Linked DNA regions of Homo sapiens: region 1 is linked to region 2. The links come from fine-mapping of genetic effects on gene expression. A gene starts in region 2. The other region holds a variant in brackets. All regions are shown on one strand. Distances are from middle to middle.

What was found. PIP is the estimated chance that this variant, and not a neighbour inherited with it, causes the effect.
Region 1: its variant is fine-mapped to the expression of DCAF10 in whole blood (TOPMed, PIP above 0.99).

What each region holds. Positions count from the first base shown.
Region 1 is chr9:37,846,322-37,854,661 of GRCh38, forward strand. The region is part of intron 3 of DCAF10 (DDB1 and CUL4 associated factor 10); the gene reads left to right. Among named protein-coding and RNA genes, the nearest start is that of DCAF10, 50 kb to the left of the region's middle. The variant C/T (reference allele first, on the strand shown) is at 5,100.
Region 2 is chr9:37,795,618-37,803,957 of GRCh38, forward strand. DCAF10 (DDB1 and CUL4 associated factor 10) reads left to right here and starts at 5,180. Exons shown (of 7, transcript NM_024345.5): 1 at 5,180-5,788. The coding sequence starts at 5,250. LOC105376037 (a long non-coding RNA gene) reads right to left here and starts at 5,274. Exons shown (of 3, transcript XR_929599.3): 1 at 5,050-5,274; 2 at 3,014-3,111. RefSeq lists enhancers at 4,709-5,310, 6,262-6,311 and silencers at 5,152-5,671, 5,892-5,951.

The DNA of each region.
Region 1 (8,340 bases), 51 kb after region 2:
ATAACCAACCTTACAGAAATTAAAAGGATTAATAAGGAGTACTATGAGCAACTTTATGGCAACAAATTAGGCAACACAGATGAACAGATAGACACCTAAGGAGTCACAAATTACTGAAATTGACTTAAGATAAATAGAAAATCTATTGACTTATAGACCTACAGCAAGTAAAGATATTGAATTGGTAATTTTTTTTTTAAGATGGAGTCATTGCAACCTCTGCTTCCCAGGTTCAAGTGATCCTCCTGCCTCAGCCTCCTAAGTAGCTGGGATTACAGGCATCCACCACCACCCCTGGCTAATTTTTGTATTCTTAGTAGAGACAGGGTTTCACCATGTTGGTCAGGCTGGTCTCAAACTCCTGACCTCAGTGATCTGCCCACCTCGGCCTCCCAAAGTGCTGGGATTACAGGTGTTAGCCACTGTGACTGGCCTGAATTGGTAATTTAAAAATACTCCCACAGTGAAAAGCCCAGAATCAAATGGCTTCACTGATTAATTCTACCAAATATTTACATAGTAAATAATAACAGTCCTTCACAAACTCTTCCAGAATATAGAGGAGACAGGATATTTTCCAACTCATGCTTTGAGTCTACTATTATCCTGATACCAAAACCAGACAGACACCATAAGAATAGAAACTACAGGGCTGGGTGTGGTGGCTCATGCCTGTAATCCTAGCATTTTGAGAGGCCAAGGCGGGTGGATCACTTGAGGTCAGGAGTTCAAGACCAGCCTGGCCAACATGGTGAAACCCCACCTCTACTAAAAATACAAAATTAGCTGGGTGTGGTGGTGCATGCCTGTAATCTCAGCTACTCAGGAGGCTGAGGCAGGAGAATCATGTGAACCCAGAAGGTGGAAGTTGCAGTGAGCCAAGATCACACCATTGCACCCCAGCCTGGGGCACAAGAGTGAAACTCCATCTCAAAAAAAAAAAAAAAAAAAAAAAAGAATAGAAACCACAAATATTCCTAAAAAAAAAAAGGATGGAAAAATCCTCAACAAAATATTAGCAAATCTAACAATATATATAAACATTTTTATGTCATCACCAAGTGGAATTTATCCCAGGAATACAGGGTTGGTTTAACTCCCAAAATCAGTTAATGTAATACATTATACTAATAAAGGTCAAAACCCATATGATAATCAAGACAGAAAAGCACTTGACAAAATCTCTTTGTGATAAAACTAGGCATAAAAGGGAATGTATTCAAAAGCTAAGAATCTTGCTTAACATTGAAAGACTGAATGCATTCCCCCTAAGATGGGAAGCAAGGCTCTCACCACTTTTTTTTGAAATTATACTGGAGGTGCAACATTGCACTGGAGGTGCAATCAGGTAAAAAAAAGAAAAGGCATTCAGAATAGAAAGGAAGACGTAAACTGTCTTCATATGCAGGAAATATGTTTCTGTATACAGAAAATAGTAAGGAACCTACCAAGAAATCCACTAGACCTAATAAACAAGTTTAGTAAATTCACAAGATATACAATCAATTGTATTTCTACTTATAAGCAATGAACAATCCAAAAATGAATGAAGAAAATAATTTAATTCACAATAGCATCAAAAAGGGTAAAATACATAGGAATAAAATTAACAAAAGAGGTATGAGATTTGTACACTGAAATCTATAAAACATTGCTAAAGGGAATATAAGAAGTTGTAAATAAATGGGGAGATAGTCCATGTTCATGGATTCGAAGACTCCATATTATTAATTAATAACAAGTATTGGCAAGAATATGGAGAAACTGGAACCCTGATTGCTGAAACCCACATTGCTGGTGGGAATGTAAAATGGAATAGCCACTTTAGAAAACAATTTGGCAGTTTCATAAAATGTTAAACATGGAGTTACCATATGATCCACCAATTCCACTCCTAGATATCTATTCAAGAGAAATGAACATATATGGCCACACAAAGACTTGTACATGAATATTTATAGTAGCACTCATAATAAGCAAAAATGGAACCAATCCAAATATCCAGCAAGTGGTAAATAGATAAACAAAATGTGGTGGATGTATGCAACAGAATTCTATTTAGCAATGAAAACGAACAAATAATTGATACATGCTATGACATGGATGAACCTCAAAAAATTATGCTGGGTGAAAAAAGCCAACTTGCAAAAGACTACTTACTGTACGATTCTATTTATATGAAATATCTAGAATAGGTAAATCTATAGAGACAGAAAGTTGATTAGTGGTTGCCTGGAGCTGAGAGTGGGAACAGAAAGTGATTGCTAATGGGCAGGAGGAATCTCTTAAGGTGATGAAAATGTTCTAAAACTGGATTGTGTTGATGATTGCACAGCTCTGTAAATTTACTAAAAAATTACTTAATTGCGGCCTGGCATGGTGGCTCACACCTGTAATCCCAGCACTTTGGGAGGCCGAGGGAGGGTGGATCACCTGAGGTCAGGAGTTTGAGACCAGCCTGGCCAACATGGTGAAATCCCGTCTCTACTAAAAATGCAAAAATTAGCAGGGCGTGGTGGTGGGCACCTGTAATCCCAGCTACTCAGGAGGCTGAGGCAGGAGAATTGCTTGAGTCCAGGAGGTGGAGGTTCCAGTGAGTCAAGATCACGCCACTGCTCTCCAGCCTGGGCGACACAGCGAGACTCTGTCTCAAAAAAAAAAAAAAAAAAACTTAATTTACACCTAAAATGAGTGAGTTTTATGGCATGTAAGTTATACCTCAATGAAACTCCTGAATCATTAATTAACTAGAGATAGAAGGAAATTTATCAAAAGTATATACTAAAAAATTATAGCACATTTTAAAATGGTGAACCTTAAGAAGATTTCTCCTTAAAATCTGGAAGGAGAGCTTGCTCACTGTTACCACTACTGTTCATCAGTGTCATGGGGTGGGTGAAGCGGGGGAGGGTACTAGTTGGTGCAATAAAAGAAGGAAGAAAACAATTATATATGGATTGGAAAGAAGAAAACACTATTATTCACAGATGATATATCAGGCGTTGGCAAACTATTTCTGTAAAGGACCAGGTAGTACATATTTTAGGCTTTGTGTACTACATGGTCTCTGAGCTGTCATAGATGATACATAAATGAATAGATGTGGCTGTGTTTATACAAACTTTCTTTATAGAACCAGGCAGTGGTCAGGCACCGTGGCTCATGCCTATAATCCCATCACTTTGGGAGGCCAAGGTGGGAGGACTGTGTGAGCCCAGGAGTTTGAGACAAACCTGGGCAACATAGTGAGACCTCATCTCTAAAAAAATTTTAAAACATGGCCAGGCACGGTGGCTCATACCTGTAATCCCAGCACTTTGGGAGGTTGAGGTGGGCAGATCATGAGGTCAGGAGTTCGAGACCAGCCTGACCAATATAGTGAAACCCCGTGTCTACTAAAAATACAAAAAAATTAGCCAGGTGTGGCAGGTGCCTGTAATCCCAGCTACTCAGGAGGCTGAGGAAGGAGAATCGCTTGAACCTGGGAGGCGGAGGTTGCAGTGAGCCGAGATCGCACCACTGCATTCCAGCCTGGGCAACAGTGCAAGACTCCATCTCAACAACAACAACAACAAAAAATTTAAAACATTAGCCAGGTGTGGCCGTGTGTGCCTGTAGTCCCAGGTACTCAAGAGGGCGAGACAGGAGGACCCCTTGAGCCCAGGAGTTCAAGGTTTCAGTGAGCCATGATTGCACCACTGCACTCTAGGCTGGGCAAGAGATTGACACCCTGTCTTTAAAACATAAAATAGATAAAAGTGGGCCAAATTTGGCCCATAGGCCAAAGTTTTCTACTCCCTGTTCTATATAGAAAATCTTACAAATTCCTCAGAGAAATTATCAGAATTAGTAAGATTTAACAAAGGTCATTAGATATAAATTATGGAAGACAGTAGGGAGGTTCCTCAAAAACTTAAAAATAGAACTACCATATAAATCCAACAATCCTTCTACTAGGTATATATCCAAAGGAAATTAAATCACTATGTCAAAAAGATATCTGCACTCTCATGTTCATTGCAGCACTATTCACAGTAGCCACGATATGGAGTTAACCTAAACGTCCATCAATGAATGAATGGATTAAAAATGTTGTAATATACACAGCAAAATACTATTCAGCCTTAAGAAAGAAGGAAATTTTGTCATTTGCGACAATACGAATGAGCCTGGAGGACATTATATTAAACAAAATAAGCCAGGCTCAGAAAGACAAATATCACTTACATGTAGAATCTAAAAAAGTCAAAAACTCATAGAAGCAGATAGTAGAATGGTGGTTACCAGGGACTGGGGACAGGTGGGTGGAGTACAGTTGGGGGAAACTTTGGTCAAAAAATACAACATTTCAGTTAGGAGGAATAAAAGTTCAAGAGATTTATAAGGTACAACATGATGACCACTGTTAATGACAATTTACTGTTGTTATTATATATAATTGAAATTTGTTAAAAGTAGATTTTAAGTTTTATCATCATAAATGCTAAGTATGTGAGGATATATTTTATATATATATATATATATATATATATATATATATATATATATATATATATATATAAATTAGCTTGATTTAGCCATTCCACAATATATACATATTTCAAATATCATGTACACCATTAAAAAAACTCATTTTTTTAGGCCTGGTGCGGTAGCTCATGCCTCTAATTCCAGCACTTTGGGAGGCCAAGGCGGGTGGATCATTTGAGATCAGGAGTTCGAGACCAGCCTGGCCAACATGGTGAAACCTTGTCTGTACTGAAAATACAAAGAGTAGCCGGGTGTGGTGCCACACACCTGTAATCCCAGCTACTTGGGAGGCTAAGGCAGGAGAATTGCTTGAACCTGGGAGGAGGAGGCTGCAGTGAACCGAGATTGTGCCACTGCACTCCAGCTTGAGCGACAGAGTGGAATATAGTGGCACAATCATAGTTTACTACCACCCTGTCCTCCTGGGCTCAAGCCATCCTCCTACCTCAGCCTCTCAAGTACCTGGGACCACAGGTGTGACACTCTGCCTGGCTACTTTTGCATTTTTTCATAGAGACAGTGTCTCATTATGTTGCCCGTGTTGGTCTCTAACTTCTGGCTCAAGTGAT[C/T]GTCCCACCTCGGCCTCCCAAAGTGCTGGGATTACAGGCATGAGCCACTGCACCTAGCCAATAAGCAAATTTTAAAATAAAGGGCATAAACTGCCTGGGCACAGTGGCTCACACCTGTAATCCCAGCACTTTGGGAGGCCGAGGCGGGTGGATCACTTGAGGTCAGGAGTTTGAGACCAGCCTGGTCAACATGGTAAAACCCCATCTTTACTAAAAATACAAAAATTAGCTGGGCGTGATGGCAGGCGCTTGTAATCCCGGTTACTCGGGAGGCTGAGGCAGGAGAATCGCTTGAACCTGGGAGGCAGAGGTTGCAGTGAGCCAAGATCATGCCACTGCATTGGGCGACAGAGTAAGACTCTGTCTCAAAATAAATAAATAAATAAATAAATATATATGAAAATAGATATTGAAAAGTTACCCAGAATATAATATGAAAAAGATACTGAAATGAAAAGATAGAAAATATAAAGAAGCAAGTTATAAGAAAAGGAGAGTCAAACATGAATGTTTCATACATATATTTGGAGCTCTAAAAGAATAGGGAAAATCAGTGAGAGGCAATATTGGAATAATGACTGAGAAACTTTCAGAATATATGAATAATACGAATCTTAAGACTTGGAAAGTCAAATGAATCCCAGTAAAGATAAATAAAAAGAGATCCAAATTTACATATACCAGTGAAATTGCAGTACTCTAAAGACAGAGAGAAGATTCACCAGAGGGGGGAAAAAAGATAAATTACGCAAAGTAATAGTCAGACTAATAGCAGACTCACAAATAGTAACAATGGAAAATAGAACTCTGTGGAAAATTATCCTAAATATTCAGAAGGAAACAACGACCTAAAATTATATGCTAAGCTAAACCTTTATTCAATAAGATGAGTTGAGCTGGGCATAGTGGCTCATACTTATAATCTCAGCACTTTGAGAGGCTGAAGTGGGAGGATCACTTGAGACCAGGAGTTCCAAGACTAGCCTGGGCAACACAGCAAGACCCCATCTCTACAGAAAATTTAAAAATTAGCCAGGAGTGGTGGTGCACACCTGTAGTTCCAGCTACTCGGAAGGCTGAAGTGGGAAGATTCCTTGAGCCTGGGAATTTGAGGTTATAGTGAGCTATGATTATGCCACTGCACCCCAGCCTGGGCAACAGAGGGAGACCCAGTCTCTTAAAAGAGTGAAATAAAGATTTTCAGAACAGGCTGGGCATGGTGGCTCACGCCTATAATCCCAGCACTTTTGTAGGCCAAGGCGGTGGATCACCAGAGGTCAGGATTTTGAGACCAGCCTGGCCAACATGGTGAAACCCCGTCTCTACTAAAAATGTGAAAAATTAGCTGGATGTGGTGGCAGGTGCCTGTAATCCCAGCTACTTGGGAGATGTATATTGTACAACATGATGACCACTGTTAATGACAATTTACTGTTGTTATTATATATAATTGAAATTTGTTAAAAGTAGATTTTAAGTGTTATCATCATAAATGTTAAGTATGTGAGGTTATATATATATATATATATATATATATATATATATAAATTAGCTTGATTTAGCTATTCCACAATATATACATATTTGAAACATCATGTACACCATTAAAAAATTTTATTTTTTTTAAAGGCTGAGGCAGGAGAATCGCTTAAACCCAGGAGGCGGAGTTCACAGTAAGCCAAGATCGCGCCATTGCACTCTAGCCTGGGCAACAAGAGTGAAACTCCGTCTCAAAAAAAAAAAAAAAAGATTTTCAGAACAATAAAAAGCGAGAGCATTTACCTCAACAAAGTCTAACTTTAAAAAATTCTGGCCGGGCATGGTGGTTCATGCCTGTAATCCCAGGCATGGGTGTGGTGGTGCGTGCCTGTAATCCCAGCTACTTGGGAGGCTGAGGCAGGAGAATCGCTTGAACCCGAGAGGCAGAGGTTGCAGCGAGCTGAGACAGTACCATTGCACTCCAGCCTGGGCGACAAGAGCAAAACTCCATCTCAAAAAAAAAAAAAAAAAAATTCTGAGGGATATACTTCAGAAAGAAAGGATCAAAAAAGGAATTTTGGAGATGAACGAAGGAATGATGAGCAAAAAGATTGTTAAGCATGTATGTAAATCTCAATATACATTGACTGTAAATTCTATTTTTTTTAACAGCTGGAAGTTTTACAACTTTTTCTTCTGGTACTCATTTTCATTATATTTTCTCATAGAATTATATCCTGTTATATGCTCAGGCTGGTGTGCAGTGGCGCAATCATGGCTCACTGCACCGTCCACATCCCAGGCTCAAACCATCCTCGCACCTCAGTCTCCAGCTAACTTTTTATTTTTTGTAGAGACAGGGTCTTGCTATGTTGCCCTGGTTGGTCTTGAAATCCTGGGCTCCATCTGTCCTCACGCCTCAGCCTCCCAAAGTGTTGGGATTACAGGTGTGAGCCACCACCCCTAGCCTACTGATCATTCTTATTGGCATCAAAAATATGCACGTAAACTGACATTAATTTTAAAAATTGTTTTCTGTGACCACAGGGCTATTAGTGTTACATTTCTTCTGGATTTAATGATCATTACAATATTATTAGTCCACAATTGATTAAAACAACATGTATTATTTTAAATAATAATTATTAACATAAAAAGTAAAATTTATTGGAAAGACATCTCATTTTTGAAGTTTCAATTTTTTTTTTTTTGAATAGAGACAGGGTCTGTCTGTCTGTCACCCAGGCTGGAGTGCAGTCGTGTGATCATAGCTCACTGCAGCCTCAAACTCCCAGGCTCGCGTGATCCTCCCACCTCAGCCTCCTGAGTAGTTGGAACTATGAGTGCACACCACCACACTCAGCTAATTTATTTTAATTTTTTAAATTTTTGTAGAGATGGGGTCACCATCTTGCCCAGGATGGTCTTGAACTCCTAGGCTCAAGCAATCCTCCTGCCTTGGTCTCTCAAAGTGCTGGGGTTACAGGCATGAGCCACCATGCCTGGCCTCAAATATTTTTTAATTGACACATTGTAACTGCACATATTTACAGGGTACAATTTGATGTCTTGACACATATATGTTGTATAATGAGCAAATCAGTATTAGCATGCACTTATCATTCCTTTGTGGTAAGGACATGTAACAGTCGCTCTTCTAGCTATTTTATAATATACTGTATCTTACTATTAACCGTCATCACCCTACTGTGCAATATTAATACCCTAGAACTTATTCCTCCTAATTGTAATTTTGAGCCCA
Region 2 (8,340 bases):
ATCAAAGGCATAGTGTGAATTCTGTGAAGGAGTTTCTGTACCAGGGAAAGCTCCACTAACTTTTAAACTTGCTAGGTATTTCTCCAGCTTTATGAACATTTAATGTCAGATATCCCTGCAGAGACCACTTAAAAGTTTACTTTTGCTCTAGGCTGAAAACAGTATACCTGAGGAAAAACAGTAACATGACTTACACCTTAGAAAATATCCACTTTTAGTTTTCGCCTAAATAGTGCAGGTAATTTTGAGTCTACAAGGCTTCTGAAAAAGAGCAGGGGATGCCAGGTGCTTGGGAGTGGGGGTTGAAGGGTGGAAATGGGACTTCATGCCTAAGTATACGAATTTCAGTTTGAGAAGATGAAAAAATTCCTACCCATTGCACCCTCCAGTTCCCATCCGAAAAGACAACCACCTTCATCTACAGCTCTTTTCTCTGCTATTTTACCTCAATGTTTAAATATAATACACTGATATTGCTTGATTTCTTAATTTTAAGAGAATGTGTTGACTTCCTGACAAGGTAGATGTGGTTTTGGCTCTTCCTATTTCCACACTCTTCATCCCTCCCTCTCCACGCTTTGCTAACACACGGCATAGTTACAGCACAATTTCTGGTTAAATCAGAAGCCATTTTTTACAATATTACCAGTGCAAATATTGTTATCTGCCTTGACAGATTGTACATTTTATGCAATCCTTTATTTTTCATGGAGTTGGTGATTGCCTCGTTTCAGTCCATTGTTTGTTATTCTATATACTTTGTTAATTTCTTCCACTATTCTGGCATTGGAGTCTTTTGCCTCGCCTTAATAGATTGCAACATTCCATTTCCATTTTTCCTCTGGAGACTTCCCACTCTGTGCTCCTCCCACTTTGGGGGGGCTGCTCTTCAGGCCTGCTGCACAGCTGTCTTTTCTTTAATTGTGGTAAAATATGCATAACAAAATTTATCATCTTAACAATTTTTACATGTACATTCAGTACATACACAGTGTTAAGTGTATTCATACTGTTGTGCAGCCATCACCACCATCCATCTCCAGAACTCTTCTCATCTTGCAAAACTGAAATTCTGTACCCATGAAACAATACCTCCCCATCCCCACCTCACCCTAGTGCCTGGCATCCACCATTCTTCTTTCTGTCTCTGTGAATTTGACGACTCTAGGTACTGCATAGAAGTGGAAACATACAGTATATATATCCTTTCGTGACTGGCTGATTTCACTTGGCATAATATTCTCAAGGTTCATACACGTTGTAGCATGTGTCATATTTCCCTCCCTTTTTGTACACCTGTCTTTTATACCTTCCTGCACTGCTCTCCTTCTTAGATCCACTTAGATCACTTTTATTCCACTTTCTTGCTTTACCTGTCCATTTTGCTAGAGGTCCATAACCTCCGGTATCTTCTTAAATAAAGAGAATATGAGGCTGGGCACAGTGGCTCACGCCTGTAAAACAGAGTGACTCTGTCTTTTCTCAAAGATCTACTGATGGCCACACAAGGCATCTCCTTGCTGTGTTAGGTATATCATCCTATGTCCTATTTCTTGTGGCATCATTGAGCCCACAGCAGGCCTCATTTTGAACTTCCACATGTGGCATTTTTTGAAAAATCTGTAGCTGTGGCAATACTGAGCTTGCATTTCCTCGTAGTTGCCAAGTTATGGCTGCCCCCAGTAAAGGGAAATTTAGAGACAATGCTTGCAAAGCTCCTACCAATAAGCCTGGTGAAGCACTTACTCAACAAATGGAAGTTGTTCTTTTTCATGGGATTACAGTTATTCAAAGGTTCAGAATTTAAAAGTGTTCAGAAGAAAAGGGGAGCCAGACCTGATATTTGTAGATTGGCTTAGATTTGGAGGTTTTTAAAAAATACTATTGAGTTGCCATCCTTGGCAAGGAGCTTGTATGTACAGCGATAGCTATAGATCCAAGCCAATCTACAAATGTGTGTGTAGCACCTGGTTACGAGCATGGAACCTGGAGCTAGATTGCCTGGATTTGAATCCTGGCTTTACCACTCTCAGGCTGACTTTTCTTTTTTGTGTCTGTGTTTTCTCATCTCTAAAATGGGGATAATAATCGTACCAACATACCTTGAGTTTTGAGTTAATATATATGAACCAGCTTAGCATAATATTAGGCACATACTAAACATTATATGAATGTTTGCTTATTATTTTTCAATAAGCTTATATGATAGGATCACTTAACTCAGCATAATATTAGGCATATACTAAACATTATATGAACATTTGCTTTTTATTTTTCAATAAGCTTATATGATAGGATCACTTTACTCAGCATAATATTAGGCATACACTAAACATTATATGAATGTTTGCTTTTTATTTTTCAATAAGCTTATATGATAGGATCACTTTACTCCTTGAGTACATTGTTTTCTTTGGGCTACAGAAGGCTCCCTGGTTGAAAGGACACATTTGTTTTCTTGGTTGTCATTCCAATTCTTTTTTTTTTTTTTTTTTTTTTTTTTTTTTTTTGAGACGGAGTCTCGCTCTGTCGCCCAGGCCGGACTGCGGACTGCAGTGGCGCAATCTCGGCTCACTGCAAGCTCCGCTTCCCGGGTTCACGCCATTCTCCTGCCTCAGCCTCCAGAGTAGCTGGGACTACAGGCGCCCGCCACCGCGCCCGGCTAATTTTTTGTATTTTTAGTAGAGACGGGGTTTCACCTTGTTAGCCAGGATGGTCTCGATCTCCTGACCTCATGATCCACCCGCCTCGGCCTCCCAAAGTGCCAATTCTTTTTTTTAATTTTTGAGATGGGGTCTCACTCTGTTGCTCAGGCTGAAGTGCAACAGGCTGAAGTGCAGGGTGATCACAGCTCACTGTAACCTTGAACTCCTGGGCTCAAGGGATCCTCCTGGCTCAGCCTTCCGAGCAGCTAGGACTACAAGCATGCATCACCACACCGGAATGATTTTGTTATTTTTCATAGAGAGACAGAGTTTCATGATGTTGCCCAGGCTGGTCTCAAACTCCTTACCCTCAAAAGATCTTCCTGCTGCTTGAGCTTGGGAGGTTGAGGCTGCAGTGAGCCATGACTGTATTACTGTACTCCATCCTGGTCAACAGAGTGAGACCCTGAAAAAAAAAAAAAAGATCCTCCTACCTTGGCCTCCCAAAGCACTGAGATTACAGGTGTGAGCCACTGTGTCTGGCCCTTGATTCTTTTTGTCAGTGCATAAGTCCTGGTTCAGGTATTGTGAAATCAAGTGATCATCCCACAGGAAACTGAAACTGAAATTGAGCAGCCATCATTCTGGTACCTCAAGGGACTCTGCAGGAAGACCCTAGGGGGACTCTGCCAAGAACAAGTCTAACCTGTTCTGAGTCTGTCTCTTTTTATGTATCTGTATCTCCTCCTACCATCAACTTTCTTTCTCACCGTCTATCCCAAGTCTGTTCTCTCATGGCTGCTGCTTTCTCATGATTTCTCTTACTCCTTTGGTTTGCTCAGGACTCCAGCGGCCTCACTCTGCCTTATGACTTTTCAATCCCAACCATCATGGCCAACTGCCTCACTTCTGATTTCCCAATTCAAATTCCCAAGAGCATGAGTCTGTATGGGCAAAGACTTTTGGTCTGGCAGCCTCATGGACCAGTGGCTAATCTATAGCCTGGTTACTCAAATAGTTGTCCTACCCCGGCTAGTAGGCAAGGAAAGCTAAGTAACAGCTACAAAATTCGACAGCCTAGGACTTCTAGGATGGGTTCAGTAGAATATACGTGCTGGCATACACATGAAGAGTGTGAATGCCAGGCAAGTAGGCTGCTACAGTAGATTGGACCCATCCAGGGGGTCTCCAGAGAAGTAGAACCAATAGGAGATATAGATATAAGAGAACATTTAATATGGGAATTGGTTCATATCATTGTAGAGGAGTCCCATGATCTGCAGTCTGCAAGCTGGAGAACCAGGAAATCTGGTGGTGTAATTCAGTCTGAGTCTGAAGGTGTGAGAATCAGAGGAGCTAATGGTATAACTCCCGGTCCAAGACTGAAGGCCTGAAAACTGACGATGAGTCCCCAAGTCCAAAGCCCGCAGAACCGAGTTTTGATGTCTAAGGGCAGGAGATGGATGTACCAACTTAAGAGAAAGTTAAATCACCCTTCTGCCTTTTTGTTCCTTTTCAGTCTTTAATGAATAGGATGATGCCTGTCCACAATGGTGAGGGCAGATCTTCTATTGATTCAAATGCTAATCTGTCCTGGAAACACCCTCACAGGCACACACAGAAATAATGGTTTTCCAGGCTATCTGGGCATCTGTTAGCCCAGTCAAGTTGACCCAGAAAAGTAACTATCACCTATTTGCCATCTTTCATTTAAGCCCAGATACACAGACTGGCTATCTCAGCCATTCCTTGGGTAGCACATCCAAACCTGTTTCCTCTCAGTCTCTCCTTTGCCTTGTGACAAATAGGTTTTGGAAGAAGCTGCCTGTGGTCACCCTGAACTTGTTGTGCCTTTAAGAGTTGGGCATGCTGGCCAGGCGCGGTGGCTCATGCCTGTAATCCCAGCACTTCGGGAGGCCGAGGCGGGTGGATCACGAGGTTCAAGACCAGCCAGGCCAAGATGGTGAAACCCTATCTCTACTAAAAAATACAAAAAATTAGCCGGGCGTGGTGGTGGGCGCCTGTAATCCCAGCTGCTCGGGAGGCTGGGGCAGAGAATTGCTTGAACCCGGGAGACGGAGGTTGCAGTGAGCCGAGATCGCGCCACTGCACTCCAGCCTGGGCGACAGCGCGAGACTCCATCTCGGAAAAAAAAAAAAAAAAAAAGAGTGGCATGTCACCTATTGTGTGTGGCCTGCACGTAATGCACTAATTCTTAATCCCTCGCTGATCCCAGTGTAAAGTGGAGACACCAGTACATACTCAGCCTCACAGGACTGACTGGTCAGGCCACTCATCCCCAGGCACGCGGCCACCGGTCACTGACAACTACAGACCGACTCTGCCACCCAGATCAGGTGCCCAGATGCTCAGTCGCTCACACAGGTAACTACTCGCTCCCTACCTCCGTTCCCGGGACTGCGGCGCCCCAAACCCGGCGGTGTCTCAGCTTTCCCGGTCCCCGGCGGACGGTGGCCGAGGGGCGGCGCGGGTTTCCAGCCGGTGGGGTTAGGCCGCTGCACGCCGGAAGTGGCAGCTGAACAGGGGCACTGAGGTGTCGGCCGGCGGGGCAGTGGCCCGGAGCGGGGGGCGGGGGCGTTGATCATGTTTCCCTTTGGGCCCCATAGCCCTGGAGGGGACGGATCGGCCGGAGCCGGGGCTGAGGAGCCGACGCCCCACGAGGGGCAGGCAGCAGCCACCGGGCCGCCCTCGCCACTACATCCCGGGGCTGATGCGACCCATCCCCCTCCACCCGCCCGAAGCCCTCGCCGCCCCGGCGCCCCATCGCTGTCCCCGGCCCCGCGCTCCGGAGAGCTAGGGCTGCCTGGAGCTCCGGAGTCCTCAACTGCCTCCGCCCCGGGAGAGCCGTCACCTCCCTCCCCTCCGTGCCGGCGGCCCGGGCCAGACTGCAGGGCCAAGAGCCGGGGCCGACACGGCCTCGGCGCGGGCCTGGGCGGCCCTGGCGCTAGGCTGTTCGGGTGGCTGAAAGAGCGCAGCCTGGGCCGCGGGCTGTTCGTGGACCCGGCGCGGGACAATTTTCGCACCATGACTAGCCTCTACGGTTCCATCCACCCCGCGGACTCGGTGTACCTCAGCACCCGCACCCACGGCGCCGTCTTCAACCTCGAGTACTCGCCCGACGGGTAAGCGCGGCCCCTCGGAGGGCGGGCGCCCGCCTCCGCCCGGCTCTGCTGCCAGCGGACGGCCGTCCTGGGCTCGCTCCCCGCGCCCGGGCCGAGGTTAGCGAGGCCGTTTGGGGCCGCTGGCCTTCGTGCCTCCTGGCACTTTCTGAAGCGCATTCTCGCCCTTGGAATCCCCAGCCCAGCTTTTTGAGGCAGGCAGGCGGGGCCCCACTTGCTCGCCTTCAGGACTTGGGCTCTGTGAAGGAGAAATGCCCGAAGCTACACAGCGGACCTGTCAGAGCCAGCCCACAACTAGGGCTTTCTGGTACACAGTAGGTGCTCAGTAAATACATTTTGAATAAATGCCCGCTTTCTCCCCATCATCCTAGGCTCGCGTTTTCCTACCTAAACCTGTGTCGGGGTAGGAAAGCTGTAGATTCCTTGCACTCTGTACCTGAACTTGCCATGATGGGGCAAGTGCGTTCCTTTGCTCAAGGAAGATACAGTACTAAGACACTGTAGAGACGTGGCTCTCATGATTTGGGTCATTTGTGAAGTCCCCAGGCTAGACTACAGCCTTTTTCTTGGCTGATTAAATATTTATTGTATGGCTTTGCTTTAAAGGGAACTTTCCAAAATCGTATCTATTTAAAACTTTGTCTTGTCAGTACACAAGTCCGCCATCAAAAGAAAAAATGTGCACAGTTCCACCATGAGGTGACATAGTTAATGTAATTCTTACCCCACCAAGCCTCTCGGTTGCTAGTTGTTTACTCAGTTGTTCATTCATTCATTCTCTCATTCGGCGTATATTTGTTGAGCACTTGCTATGTTCCAAATGCAGGAGTAACCATGCTGAGCAAAACCAGCTAATGGCACTGTTTTCATTGAGCCTGGGACTTAATGGTTCAACTAGATAGTAGATAGCCTTACTAAATAATGCATAAAATATATTTGTTAATTGAGATAAAGTCTTGAAGGAATCTGTTATGGACACTGTGTTCACGGATTCCCTGAGGAAGTGGCACCTAAATGAAAATAAAAATGAGTACGAAATAAATTAGTCAAGATAGGGTTGGGAAAGGGATAGAAGTATTTCAGATGGAGATGATTGGTATGTCAAAGGTCGTAGAAGGGCAGCATATCATGTTACAGGAGGTGAAAAAAAATAGGTTTACAAAGCAAAAAATTTTACTGAAGAAAGACCTGAAGTTGCTAAGGAAGGAGCAAAGGAATAGAAACAGGAGTTACTGTGAGCAAGTAGACTCTATTCCATTTCAATGATGGAAGCGCTTCCTAATCACACGTGGTGCTGGGGTCTCTGGGGTCTCAACAGCAATTGGTTGGAGCATGTAGCAGTGGATGCACACCTGAATAAGGTGGAAAACTGGTGAGAGGAGAAACTATTTTGCTGAAACTTATTCATGGAACCTCGCAGCCTCCTTCCTTCAGCCAAGCCCTATTCCTAAAGTTTCCCTCAAAACACGAACAGTCTGTCCTCAAATATTCAGTTTCTCTCTTCATATCCCGGCCCCTCTCCTCCCAACCTCCTACCGATACTTTCAGGAATTCAGAAGCAGCTATTTCTACTTTTTGGATGTGGGATTTTAGGTGGGAGTATAATGAGAAGAACAGATTTTAGAGCTGTTAGAATAAGGGATATATTGCTTAGTTTTTGTTTGAATCTAGAATGTATTTTCTCATAACAGTTTTGTAAAAGGTGGTTAGGAACTCTTGCACTTAATTCCATAATTTTAAATTACACAATTAACATATATGCTCATTGTGTAAAACCTAGGCAATAAATGAGCAAAAAATACCTAAACATTGCTTATGATCCCAGAGATTAAATGGATATCTAAGGAAATTTTTAATTTGTGTATGTTTATTTTAATATAAACATGGAATCACTGTTTTGTAGCTTGCTTTTTTTCTTACAGTAAATTGTGAACTGCTTATGTTAATAAATATATTTCTACAACATTAACATTTTTCATTAGTTTAAATAAAACCTCTTTGAACAAATATTTTATATTTATATCTTTAGGATAAATCCCTAGAATGAGTTATTGTTATGAAGATTTTTATATCTATTGTTAAATTGCCCTCTGCAAAGATCATACTAATTCTCATTACTATATTCTGATTCCTACATTCTAGACACATGCCTGTCTCCTCATACCCTTGGCAACACTGCATACTGCCATTCTTTTTCATGTTTATCAGGGTGATGAGTGAAAATACTTCAGTGTTTTAATTTTTCAGTCTTCTTACTTCATCTAGTATGCCCTACATTTGTGTAGGACTTAAAGTAATTTTACAGATAGATGACATATCCGTGTTAAATGAGGTAATTTCTCATATCTTTCAGTTAAATATGAGTTAAATCAGCTTACCAGGTAGCATAACCACTGTCACCCTCAAGGACTTCTCAATACAGAGAAGGAGGGGGTGACACAGAATGTAAAAATTAAAATTATGAATTTAATAGAGACCACAATATAAGGAATTTGGCAATAAAAAAGATAAATGGGTTAGAAGGTATTTTCTAAAGAATTCAAAAAATGTTTTAA